2 linked regions of the Homo sapiens genome follow. The protein of the gene in region 2 interacts with the protein of the main gene of each other region in a biochemical or structural test. Each region holds a gene or a part of one and is shown on either strand. Other genes may lie near its edges.

What was found. Proteins that work in one complex are often made in the same cells at the same time.
Region 1: the proteins of COL6A5 (region 2) and USP3 form a complex in vitro, tested with the Homo sapiens proteins (one study listed by BioGRID).

Annotation. Positions count from the first base shown.
Region 1 is NC_000015.10:63,556,593-63,563,592, forward strand, and holds part of USP3 (ubiquitin carboxyl-terminal hydrolase 3), read left to right. Parts: intron 1-74; coding exon 75-156; intron 157-1,513; coding exon 1,514-1,596; intron 1,597-3,264; coding exon 3,265-3,378; intron 3,379-6,302; coding exon 6,303-6,416; intron 6,417-7,000. UniProt on the Homo sapiens protein: Deubiquitinase that plays a role in several cellular processes including transcriptional regulation, cell cycle progression or innate immunity.
Region 2 is NC_000003.12:130,383,565-130,390,727, forward strand, and holds part of COL6A5 (collagen alpha-5(VI) chain isoform 1 precursor), read left to right. Parts: intron 1-1,239; coding exon 1,240-1,800; intron 1,801-5,015; coding exon 5,016-5,570; intron 5,571-7,163. UniProt on the Homo sapiens protein: Collagen VI acts as a cell-binding protein.

The DNA.
Region 1 (7,000 bases), on a different chromosome or scaffold from region 2:
GAGTTTATTCTTTCACCTGTGGTGTAGCATGCATATATTAATAACTTTTTCACTATCTGTTTGTGTTTTAATAGCTCAGCTTTCACAGCTGACAGGCATAAGAAAAGAAAACTTTTGGAAAACTCAACACTAAACAGCAAGTTATTAAAAGTAAATGTAAGTAATTAAAATTTATTCAAATATAAGAGTTAGTTGAGATTTAATCACTGTTTTGTTACAACTCTAACATGTAATGTTACCTGTTACAGACTTTTATAAATGTGTGTCTTGGATTTGGAGTATTTTACACAATGTTTGCCACCTGTACTGTCGATTGTTGCCGTGACCCCAGTGAGTCCATCTGTCAGCACCTTCTTCCCATCAGCGTTACTGCTGTGCTCCTCTTCCCTAGAAAACAGTTCACTCTTAATACTTGCTCACACTCCTTCGTCATCAGAAAACCCAGCCTTTGTTTTTAAGACTAAGTCTTTAGCTTCAGGCGGCTTTTCCTTTTTTTGAGATGGAGTCCCACTCCGTAGCCCAGGCTGGAGTACAGTGGCGCAGTCTCGGCTCACTGGAACCTCTGCCTCCCAGGCTGAAGTGATTCTCCTGCCACAGCCTCCCAAGGGGGTGGGACAACAGGTGTACACCACCACGCCTGGCTAATTTTTGTACTTTTATTTTGTTTTTGTTTTTGTTTTTTTTTTTTGAGATGGAGTCTCACTCTGTCACCCAGGCTGGAGTGCAGTGGCACAATCTTGGCCCATTGCAACCTCAGCCTCCTGGGTTCAAGCAATTCTCCTGCCTCAACCTCCCAAGTAGCTGGGATTACAGGCACACGCCACCACGCCCGGCTAACTTTTTCTGTTTTAGTAGAGACGGAGTTTCACCGTGTTGCTCAGGCTGGTCTCGAACTCCTGAGCTCAGGCAATCCACCCACCTCAGCTTCCCAAAGTGCTAGGAGTACAGGCATGAGCCACCACACCCAGCCTTTTTGTATTTTTAGTAGAGACGGAGTTTCGCCATGTTGGCGGCCTGTCTTGAGGCGCCTGGCCTCAGGCAGCTTTTCAAGATTCATATCCCATTGTTAGGAAAACGTGTATTGGTCGTTTATGTATGGCTTAGAGTTAAAAGTTTGGGGACAAAAATACTTGGGGTGTATATATTTATATTTTTTCCATTTCTCTTAGTTTTTATAGAATCTTAAAAAGGCATTAAGTCTTAAATGTTATTTTAAGGATTTCCTGTTTTTTGCATTGTGTACTCCATGGTACTCATTAATGGTGATTTCCTCATAAGCTTTCAATAAGATACTTCTATTTAGAACAATCCCAGGATCAGAAACAGCCTTCTAAAAATATCCAGACATTTATACAGAGACTAGAGAGTTTGTTTGAAATATTCATTGGACAGAAAAGGACCAATTCCAAATTGGCTTGGTGCTAGATTTCAGAGGCCTTTCCTTAGCTTTGATGTTTGAAACAGTTGGCCTTCCCTTGGCATTACTGATGGCCTCTTCTTGCACCACTTACAGGGAAGCACCACTGCCATTTGTGCCACAGGCCTTCGGAATTTGGGGAACACATGTTTCATGAATGCCATCCTTCAGTCACTCAGGTAACGCTACAGTCAGAGCTTAAGTGTCTGACATTAAAGGTTAAGAGCACGGGCTCTGGCTCCCTATCTCGTCTGCCACTAACTCTAGTCATATGGTTTGGAGCAAGATACCTTAATTTCCTGTGCTTTTGTTTCCTCATCAGTAAAATTGGGGACAGTAGTTCCTACCTCATGGGGTAGTTGGGAAGATTGAATAATGTAATTTGTCTAAAGTACTTAGAGCAGTGTCCTGCAGTGAATAGTTGTTTGCGGTTATTTCCGGTTGCTTTTTGAATAGGCTAGAACTGAGGTCAGCAAACTTTTTCTGTGAAAGGCCTGATAGTAAACATTTTAGTATTTCAGGCTACAGTCTCTCTCAGATATCCCCCACCCCCCCGCTCTTTATTAAAACAACACTTTAGGGCCAGGTGCAGTGGCTCAGGCCTGTAATCCCACCAGCACTTTGGGAGGCTGAGGCGGGCAGATCACCTAAAGTCAGGAGTTTGAGACCAGCCTGGCCAACATAGTGAAACCCCATCTCTACTAAAAATACAAAAATTAGCTGGGCGTGGTGGCATGCGCCTCTAGTCCCAGCTGCTTGGGAGGCTGAGGCAGGAGAATCGCTTGAACCCAGGAGGTGGAAGTTGCAGTGAGCCAAGATGGCGCCACTACACTCCAGCCTGGGTGACAAAGCGAGACCCTGTCTCAAAAATAAATAAATTAATTAATTAATTAAATAAAACAACACTTTAAAAATTTAAAACTCGCTTTAAGAGCTGCCTGGTGGAGGGCTAGATTTGGCCTGTGGGCTACAGTTTGCAGACCCCTGGGTTACAGAGAGCCTTGTTCAGAGAGCTTATTTCAGTCATTAGTTAAGTTTTAACCCATTTATGTCAGAGGTTGCAATTTTTCTGTATGAAAAATCAGACGTTGGTGATGACCTCGATCAGTAAGATATAAATAACTCCCAGAAGCTTAGCGTTCCAATAATGGAACACTAGGCATAAATGGGTTAATCAAGGTCATAAGATGAGATGTCTTCAAAATATGAGACAAGTAGTAAAAATAAAATAGTCAACAAGGCTGACTTAAGTTTTGTAGAATAAATTATTTTGAAAGTTGCATACTTTTAGATTTTAATGAGACATCAAAGGCCAGAATAAATGATCTTCCCAAGGTTACATTGCTGATAAGAAGCAGAAGGCATATTTGATCTCTCCTGGAAGGCACTGCCTCTTAGCTTATCTCTTCTTGCTCAAAGAGGAAATTATAATTACTACTGAATTCTCCTTAGGATTCTGTATAGTGTATCAAAATAATATGGTCGGTTTCATGGTTTGTTTTTATTTGAGGAAATTATTGAATAACTGGAAACAAGCAACCGAAAAGAAAGAAATGGTGACTACCTATAGCTGGAGGGAGAATTGGGGATTTTTTTGAAAAGAGATTTTGTTTTCAGCTCTTTGTTTTTTGTTTTTGTTTTTTTACAAAGTCATCTGTCTATACTGTTTTCTTAGAGAGAAGGAAAAATCATAATGAAGAATCTGAATGCAAGAGATTGCACTGAGTACAGTTTAAATGAGACAATTGAAAAATGGCAGTTTCAAAATGTATATGTAGGCTTCATCAACTTTCTTTACAGTCCTATTCTTTTCTTTTTAAAATATTTTTCCCTTCCTTTTAAAATAGTAACATTGAGCAGTTTTGCTGTTATTTCAAAGAACTGCCCGCCGTGGAGTTAAGGAATGGGAAAACAGCAGGAAGGCGGACATACCACACCAGGAGCCAAGGGGATAACAATGTGTGAGTTATAAGAGTATGTCCTTTCTGGCTTTGAGTTACAAAACAAATTACTTTCACTGGTGGTTTCCATTGTACTAAGTGAGCTAACAGGCACATGCCTTAAAAAAAATCTTCTAAAAATTGTGTTTAAATATCTAGTTAGCAATCTTAATAATTGTTGGAATTCCGGCCGGGTGTGGTGGCTCACGCCTGTTATCCCAGCACTTTGGGATGCTGAGGCGGGTGGATCACCTGAGGTCAGTCAAGACCAGCCTGGTCAACATGGTGAAACCCCATCTCTACTAAATATACAAAAATTAGCCGGGCATGGTGGCGGGTACCTGTAATCCCAGCTACTCGGGAGGCTGAGGCAGGAGAATCGCTTGAACCCAAGAGGCAGAGGTTGCGGTGAGCCGAGATCGCGCCACTGCCCTCCAGCCTAGGTGACAGGGCGAGACTCCATCTCAAAAAAAAAAAAAAAAATTGTTGGGATTCCTTTATTTACCGTAACAGGAGGGATAAATTTAGCATTCTACTTATTGACTCTGCAGATTTGGGCATTCTAGAATTGGCATCTAGATATGAAGTGCAGTTCTAGGTGTAGATGACTATGAATCTCATTAGTCCATGTGAGTTGATTTGTCCGACAGTGTTAGGTAAACCTGTCTTGGATACTGAAATTAATTTGTAGTCAACAGATTAGTTGTGGGGGAATAAAGTCAATTTTTGGTTGATACGGAGAGGGGGGGAAGAAAACGGACAAGTGCTCATTAAGAACCAATCCTGTATCCTCATTTGGTGTAGACCTCCCTTATTTGTGGTTCAGAAGATCTTTCATTATGACAATTGTAGTGAGCACATTTTTCATAACTTTACAGCTCTTTTTCAGAAGGACTGTGACTCGTACTCCTTATATATTTAATGTTTTCTCTGTCTGCCTCCTCCACTTCCACACACTCCCATTCTCACTCATTCTGAAGGGGTGATCAGACACTTTCCTGCCTTGGTGGCTGAGGGAGAGTAGGACTGAACATGTCAGAATAATGGGCAGTAGGGCGAGAGTCACAGTGCAGGGAAACTGGAAAGCCAGGCGTGGAGCAGGGCTGGAATGACGTCACTACAAGTGGTGTTTGAAGGGAGTTTCCCTCACAGCAGCATCTAGGATGAGTTGAGCAGCATCTAGGATGAGTTGAAAGTGCCTGCATTCAAGGAGGCTTTGCACTCTACAGTAATCAGGTCAGAGGGGACAGCAGTGAAACAGTAGAAAAAATACATGTGTATGAGTTAAGAGAAGAGTTAGTAGTACTTGATGCATTCATGTCATGCAGGGTTGAGTTGCAGGCTGTAGAAATTGCCTTTGGCTGATTTAGGCAGCAAAGGAATTTACTGCAGGGCTATTGGTGAGCTAATCATACTGGGTGAGTGAAAAATCAGGTCTGGAGTCCGAGGCAGCAGCACCGCAGTCACAGTCACCCCACAGAACTGTCCTGTAAGGCCACCACTGCCTCTGGTGCCCAGCGCAGCAGCAGAGTTCCTGTTGCCAGCACTGCTGGAGATGGGTGCTGGCGGACACAGCCATGCTGCTGCCCTGCACTCCGGATGGTGCTCTTTGCCCCCCCTGCTACCAGAGAGGATTTGGTGCCATCCCTTCTTCTTTGTGTCACTAACTCCTGCTTCGGATGGGCAAAGCCCAGGCTGTGTACCTGTGCTCTGACTGCAAGGGAGCCTGAGAAGGCGAGTGTCTGGCTGTTTAGCTTCGGAAGTGGGAGGCAAACTCTTAAAAGTAGGGATTCTCCAACATAGGAAGAGGGTTCAAGTACTAGGAAGTCAAAAATATGATTTGTATTCCAGGGACCTATGTGATTGTGAGGGTTGAGAAAGAAGATATTGAGATTCTCTGAGATACCAATCAAGTATCCGAAAATATGGTGCTTATGTTGACAGCTATGGAAGTTGAAGTTGAGTTGGATCAGTTTAGCCACAGGTGTAGAAAACCAAAATTAAGTGACTTAAACATCCATGGTTTGTTTCCTCACATAAAAGTCAGAGGCTGTCTGTCTAGGGTGGTTTGACAAAGCCATCGGGCTCCTCCTGGCTTTCTTTTCCACCAACCTCCAGAGGCCCTATCCATCCACATAGTCCCCCATGGTGCTGGGGCTCCCCAACTCCGTCCTCATTCCTAGCAGGAAGAAGGAAAGGATTATTATAGGACTACTCTTTCTTTTTAAGACATTTCCCAGAATTTGGACACACTCAGTTTTTTATTGGGAGAGTTTATATGCCCAGGAAAAAAATGAGCGTTCTATTCATATGCGAGAAGAGTGTGGATATTGGGTGATAGGAGAGGTGTACAGAGAGCAGTAGATGCTGGAGCCGGTCAGTGCACATAGAGGTGAAAGTGACAAGAGGACCTCCCGCAGAAAATTCCTGCTGGAAACTGGAGAAGTTTAAATAAAAATAGTCATGAGAAAATCTGACTTTTGGAGTTGAGAGTCACTGGTGGAGAGCTGAGTGGTGAAGGTTAGTGACACAGGCTGGAGTCTGGGGGTGCTAGTGAGTGGCAAGAAGGACAAGGCAGGAGGGGGAGAAAGAAAGCCGAATGCTTGTTTTGCATTTTGAAAATGTACATTCTTAAGTCATTTGGCCTATAACTCACCCAGTGCTGTATGGTTTGCTTGCGTGTTTTAACTCAAAGTGTACAAACATGGCGGTGCATGGGCACACTCAGAGTTAACCATATGGTTACAAATTAGCTTTGTCAGAATTACTGCTACTTTTATGGGTTTTTGAGATGCTCTTATGTATCTTTCAGACTTTCTTCAGAAAAGACCAAATCCTTTTTAAGTGTTCATTTCCTATATATTAGGCATTTTAGATGGGTGGACGCTGTGTTGAAATTGTAGCCTCTCACTAATCTGAGGGCACTGTCCTTTCCTCTTTTGCAGGTCTTTGGTAGAAGAGTTTAGAAAGACACTCTGTGCTTTATGGCAAGGCAGCCAGACTGCATTTAGCCCAGAGTCCTTATTTTATGTTGTTTGGAAGATTATGCCAAACTTTAGGTAAGTATTATATGAAGATATTTTTAAACATTAATATTAGTGTTTATACTGTTCCTGAAATAATTCCTAATGAAGTGGTTGTATTCTAAATATTCTAAATACTTAAGACTGGTTTGGTGTTTTTTTCTTTTTAAGAAGAAGAGCTGAAATTGAATACATCTGACTAAACACATGTGTTTATTTAAATAATAGACTATAGAAATGTCTTTAACAAGAGGTGGGGTATTTTGTTGCTATAAACATAAAGCCCTTATAAATAACTTATGCGCACTAGGAAAACATACTGGACAAAATTTCCTTAATTCTTTCACAATGTAGAATAATTACCATCACACACTGTCTTGTTATTCCAGCTAAAAAAATTAATAAGATCAGTAGAAGTGCATGGTATTATATGAACTGTTCGGAGCTGAGTTCGGCAGCTCTGGGAAGGCTGTGGTCAAGCGCCTGGGATGCACTCTCCAGAAGGCAGCTGTGCCACATCCCGGTGTGGCCAGAGAGCTGCTGTGGTGCCCATGCTTTCTGTCTCACCTCGCTTGAGCAAAATACACCTCTGCTGTACACCTAGCTGTCAGAGGAATCCT
Region 2 (7,163 bases):
TTTATGTATTGATTTTATAGTTCATTTCTCAGGGTCAGACTTCTTTTCAGTATATCTGATTTCCTAAGGAGCAACTGCCGTGGGCTGAAGTAGTGTCAGTAGCTATAAATTACCTAAGAGCTGTCAAGAAAACCAGATAATGACACACATAACCCAAAATTTTGAAAATATGTTCTTTCTCTTACCCAGTTTCTGTGAATATCTACATAAAGTAGTAAATAGACTACTAAGAAAGCAAAAATAGTTTTTCATAGATTCAGCTTAACAAAGGAAGGAACATTGAGAAGTCTTTTATTAAAAAAAACAAACTGAACTCCTATGATGTGCCAGGCCTACTGGGCAGAAGCAGAAAAATAAACAAAATCTTTGTCCTCATGGATTACATTCTGTGGTAAGAAACAGGCCATGCTCATGAACAAATGAAGAAGGTAACTTCAGAAAGTAACATAAAGAAAATAAACACTGTAAGAAGATAGACAATGACAGGTGTGCTTTAGATAAGGAGAAGAGAAGACCTTTTTTAAGAGATGACTTGATGACATCCATGATGAGAAGGAAGCAGCCATGTGGATATTTGGGGCAAAGAATATTTCAAGAAGAGAGGAGGGCACATGCAAAGACCCAGGGACACGTTCTAAAGACAGAATGAAGCCTAATGTGGTTGGAACACAGTGAGGGAGACGAAGAATTGCTGGAAATAGAGTCAGAGAGAAAAGCAGGAGACAAGATAAGGCCAAGTTTTAGTTTTTAAGTTCCAAATGCAACGATAGATCATTTAAGAGGTAGGATAATATGATCTAAGTTTATATTTAAATATCTTATTCTAGTTGCTCTGGGAAGAAGAGATTATTGGTGAAGTAAGAATAGAAGATCGTCAATCCCATGCCTTTTTTCAAGAAATGATAGGACATAAACTGTCTAAGAAGGCAGGTGTCAATGCTAGAAAAACTATTTAACTTGGAGCCTGGAGTCTCTGGAATTTGGTCTTTACTCTTTAATTTACTGGTTATATGACCTTAGACAAACCACTACATTTTGCCCTGTTTCAATTTTCTCACAAGGTGTTGTAAATTTCAAAGGAGAAAATGGGCATGACTGTGCTTAATGAAGTGTGCAGGCTCTACGCAAAAACGAAGTCTTCATTCTTTAGAAATGCCTCAGCCTCATGTTCCTTCACAAACCCTCTTGCAAAGTTCTCTCTAGGTTCTCTAATTTACAGAGAATGCACTTCTTTTTCAGGCTGTGTGGATACAAAAGAGGCTGATATCCACTTCCTCATTGATGGCTCAAGCAGCATCCAGGAGAAACAGTTTGAGCAAATCAAGAGATTTATGTTGGAAGTGACAGAAATGTTTAGCATTGGCCCAGACAAAGTCCGAGTTGGAGTTGTGCAGTATTCAGATGACACAGAAGTGGAATTTTATATCACTGACTATTCTAATGATATTGACTTAAGAAAGGCTATTTTTAACATTAAGCAACTAACTGGTGGAACTTATACTGGGAAAGCTCTGGATTACATACTGCAAATAATAAAAAATGGAATGAAGGATAGAATGAGCAAGGTTCCCTGTTACCTCATTGTGTTGACTGATGGGATGTCCACAGACAGAGTCGTGGAACCTGCTAAGAGACTAAGGGCTGAGCAAATCACTGTTCATGCAGTTGGCATTGGGGCAGCTAATAAAATAGAACTGCAAGAAATTGCTGGGAAAGAAGAAAGGGTTAGCTTTGGGCAGAACTTTGATGCTTTGAAAAGCATAAAAAATGAAGTCGTTCGTGAAATCTGCGCTGAAAAAGGTAAGCAACACAAAAAAGGCTTTATTCTCCACATTTCATCAATTGCTTTAGGCAGATTAATGGCCAGGCTGAGACAAGGCCTGATGTGACCAGTTGTCCGGATAACATTTTGCTAGCTTCCTTTATTACCATGGAGGGATTCAGCCCCTCACTTTTAAACCAAATGCCAAGACTGGAGAATCTGTCTATAAACAGTTGCCCCAAGGCCATCTTGGAAGTCATAAGTGGGAAGGTTGCTAAGAATGTTGGGGCCTTGACAAAGCCCACTGCTGTGGAGTGAGAGAGATTCTATTCTGCATGGGAGGTGTGTGTGTGTGTATGTATGTGCATACACAAATAAGTACGGGGGAAGTACAGTGTTTGTGTGTGCACAGGTGGGTACAGTGGAAGGAAAATGGACTTTGGCTCTAGATAGCTTAGGGTTTGACTCACATACTTCCACTTGAGCCTGGAACATTGTCATTTATAAAATGAGGATAATACCTACATCAGAGAATCCTTATAAGTTGAGCACCATAAATGCCAACCATTATTTTTATATTAAATGCATATCAAGTATATATGTAATAATTGTTCATTTTTATTTACAACAAAAACACATACTTGCATTTTTGTTCTAATTAGAGATTAAGTACCAAAAGTTAGGAGAAACAATTTGCAAATTTCTATATCTGGTTGTTTTTTTATTTCTATTATTAATAATGGCCACTTACACCACTTACTAGTTCAAGATGGTATGTGTTGATTGCCAGTATTAGCACATGAAAATATTGCCTGCTGAGAAGCACATTAGTTTACTGGTAAAGAGGAAAGATGCTAGAGTCAGAGTCAAGGTTCATACCCTAGCTTTACCACTGATTAGCCACGACCTTGAATAAGTTAGTGTCTACTTGCCTTGGTTTCCTTGTTTGTAGGCTTATTGTGAAGCTTAATGGTGATAACACACGTGGAGCAGTTAGAGGAGTGCCTGGAACATAGTAAGCGCTACAAAAAAGTTAGCTGTTGCAGAAGGTGGCTAAGGTGTTCACCGATGAGGAAAGGAAGAGAATTCTCACTTATTTGACTAAACTGAAAACGTGTTTGAATTTTCTCTAAGCCACTGAAAAACAAAAATAAAAAATAAGTAAGCAAATAAATAGCATTAACAACAAAATCCTAAGTAACAATTTTGTTCATTTTTCTCCCTGTTATGGACAGTAACAGAGTTGGGTCTTTAGGGTGTCTTAGAAAGAGTGCAAGAATAAAAGATTCCCCAATGTTTCCTGGAGTCGATGCTAAGAAAAGTAAAAGGATTCCAGGAAGCATAAAGTAGGTTGTATCTCAGATCCTTTCAAGGGAGAAGGTCCTGGACGAATCTAGGGAGGTACAGTACATCCCTTGCACTTCAGGTAGTTGCAGTTGAAGTAGTCAGCCTGAGCACTGGCATGCCTGGAGGAGGAGATAAGTTGTGGACAAGGAAATGAGTCATAAAATGGCTAACAGAGAAGCAGGAAAACAAAGGAGCCAAAGCTTGTGGAGCTAGAAAAAACTAAGGAGTCTCAGAGCAGATGCAGATGGAGTGAGGCACAGTGTATTAGTAGGGTACAGGTTAAGCTGCAATAGCAAAAAGACCCCAGACTACACAGTACAGAATATCATTTTTCTCTTACATAATAGTTTAGGGTGAATAGTCCAGGTCTAGTAGAGAGGCTGTTCCATCCTCAACACATAGCTTCCATCTTTAGGTCAAAACTGAAGATCCAGTTCTTATCACCTTCCATCCATGGAAAGGGAGAAAGGACCAAGGGAGCCTACCACACTCAACTGTTTTAATGGTAAGACCCAGAAGTGGCCAGATCACTTTTTTCTCATACCTTTTGGTTAAAACTTAGACACAAGGCCACAGCTAGCTTCAAGGAAGGCTGGGAAATACAATCTTTAGATGGGCAATCATCTGCCTATCTAAAATTTTATTAACATAGAAGAATGGAAAGATAGATATTCAGGGACATTAAGTAGTTTCTGTCACAAATAGATACCAGGAAGTAGATCCTGTGAATACTAAACTGTATGTAGAAGCCTATTTCTTTTATATGTGTTACATGGAAGAGAATCTTTCACACTTCACTACAGTGGTCAAGGCCACTCTGTCAAGGCCACAAACATCTTCAGCAATTTCTCCTCTCATGACTTTCAAGATGGTTCCATGGCAGCTTGAATCTTAAAATGGTGGTGTAGTCCTCCTGGTGGATCAGAATGTGACCTTACACGTTTATTAAGTAATAGTTAACATCTTTTCATTTTTTTAATATATGGCTGATGCTATGTTTATTTTCAAGAAGTATGGGATAGACTTCAGAATGTTGAGGGAGAAACTGTAAGAGGATGGCAGAGATTACAGATAGACAAAAGGGATTAAGACTAAAAAGATACATGCTAAAGACAATATATTTGCATATTATATATATACACAACATATGTATCATGAATTAATAATATTGTTTTTAATAGATTATAGAAATTGGTTTTATATGTGTACATATGTCTATATTATACATAGAACAATGAACATACATATGTGTGTATATATATGTATATATATATATACGTATGTCTGTATGTTCATTTCCAATCAGTAGGCTGTCTACAAATATTATGTATAAAGGAACAGTCCATGTTGAATGAGTATATGCTTACTGAAGCACTTATCTCTAGTAAAAACTTTTTCTCCAATTTCTAATATTGATTTATAGTGTTTATGAAATCACTTAGAATTATCCCAGAAAATAATGCTATTTAAAAATTATTTGAAATTGTGTTTCTCCAGAATATACATAAAACCCTGGAGTGTTAGTACTATGAGTGCAAGGAATTGATTGCTTTGGCTCTGGTTCCTTTTTTGTATCACTACTGCATCTTTAACACATGGCTGGATGCCTGGCATTTTATACAACTCAAAATTATGATTGAATGAATGAAAGAAATATGAATAAATGAGTTATGCATGCATGCATGCATGCATGAATAAATACACATTTTGGAAGCTGCATTTCTGATTCAAGGTTCTAGTCAACCAGCTTCTACTAAAGAAGCAAATACAATTTTCAAACATAACAACAGTTGCCTGAGTTAATTTTCAATGTTTTCTCATTAATGCATTTGTTTCTGCCTTAATGTTACTTCATGAGAACCTTTCCAACCTGGTTATTTCTGGTCTTTTTTTTTATAACATGCAGGATGTGAAGACATGAAGGCCGACATCATGTTTCTGGTGGACAGTTCTTGGAGTATAGGAAATGAAAATTTTAGGAAAATGAAAATCTTCATGAAAAACCTGTTAACTAAAATTCAAATTGGTGCAGACAAAACCCAGATTGGTGTTGTTCAGTTCAGTGATAAAACTAAGGAAGAGTTCCAGCTTAATAGATATTTTACACAGCAAGAAATTTCTGATGCAATAGATAGAATGTCTCTCATCAATGAAGGCACTTTAACTGGAAAGGCACTAAATTTTGTAGGTCAATACTTCACCCACTCCAAGGGGGCCCGTTTGGGGGCCAAAAAATTTCTCATCCTCATCACAGATGGAGTAGCGCAGGATGATGTGAGAGATCCTGCTAGAATTCTTCGGGGCAAAGATGTGACCATCTTCTCTGTAGGAGTATACAATGCCAATAGATCTCAGCTAGAAGAGATCAGTGGGGATAGCAGCCTAGTTTTTCATGTTGAGAACTTCGATCATCTAAAGGCACTAGAAAGGAAACTTATCTTTCGTGTGTGTGCTCTCCATGGTAAGTGTCCCTGTTATCTGTCAGGACTAAAGGATGTGAGCTGTTGACTTTATAATGAGAAACAGTGAATGGCACTCTGGCCCTGACCTCCACCTGGACTTCAGTGTTAAGTTTTGGTCTTCTTTATGTAATATTAAAATGCCTGTGACCTCCAGGAATGTTTCAGACTAACAATTTTGGCATCTAGTTTGGCACAAGTTAGTATGGCATTGGTGACTTCAAATATGTTCCAAAAAGATCCCAGAATTTTACTTTAAACTTACAAATCTTTAATACCCACATGCCTGGATTTTCCAGAGCCAGTTTTTAATCCCAAATGATTTTCTAGAATTGTTTCTTGGCTATCTATGACCATTGTTAAGCAGAAAATAACTAGAAATACAAATTCGTCTTTCTTTTAGTTAAATTATATCTAGTATCCTAAGCACCACCCACCAAGAAAACCCTGGGTATTTTAAAGATAGTTTATTTTCATTACTTCACATTATTATTCTTAACCTCTATCAACTGGATATTTTATATTTGCCTGTTCGTGTATCCATCCCTTTGAAAAATTGTAATTTGTCACTTTTCTGATTACTTGGGGTCATCATTTTATTCTTACAAATTGTAGTGCTTTTAAAATTGTATTGTGCAACCTTCAGTTTGAGCCTATCAATTTTAATGTCTTTTGAATGAGAGCTTTCTCTCAATCCACACATAGACTAAAACACCTATGTTTTTAAATCTATCATGTGCTATTTTCTGTGTTTTGGATACAACTAAGAAAACAAACCCAAGTAAGTTTGTTTTGTGTTGTTCCTGTGGCAACATAGAGATTTTCATTGGACTTTATTCGTCAAAATTATGCATGTGGAATTTTCAGAAACTTAACATAATGTCTTATAAACACTTAAGTGTTAGGTGATAGTTCTAAAGTTTCCTTGGTAACAGCTTAATTGGAATTTTCTTCTTCCCCCAAAGATGGCAGTGATTCCAAAACTCTTGATAATGTTGAGAGGTGTACCTAAAGGCTATAGCTTCAACTTTGAAACCTGCAAGGCTCTTCTTGGCATTTCTTCATTTTGATTAATGTAAATGTGGAGGCCCTGTCTACAGCATAACCTGAAATTCAGCTGACTCATGCATTAGATTGTCTCCTAAGTATCAGGTCATGACTAGTCACCAGTTCTCAGTGGGTCATTGACCAAGGTTTTTACAGATACAGCCTGGGGACATTCACAGTGTCAGAAAATTAAAAATTTGAGACTTTATTATTAGAAATAAGAGTTGACAATTAGCTAGGCAGGTGGAAAGTGGAGAAAGCCAATCTTTGGAATACATGTGCATAAGTTATTGAGGGAAGGAAAAGAGTGGGGAAAGAGTCCACACTTTGGAAAGCCAGCCAAAACAGTCATTTGTCTTACAATGTGGAGGAGGGTTTGGGGTCAGGGAAAAGGTGATAGGAGTTTTTGCTCTCCTCCTACTTGGGGCCACTTCTTTCTGAGTTCTAATTCAAAAGGTTAGGGGAAAAAGCATAAATAACTGCAGAGAGACATGATAAACAGGGATGGTTTGCATACCCGAGGGTCCAAAGATACCTGGAGCCAGAGG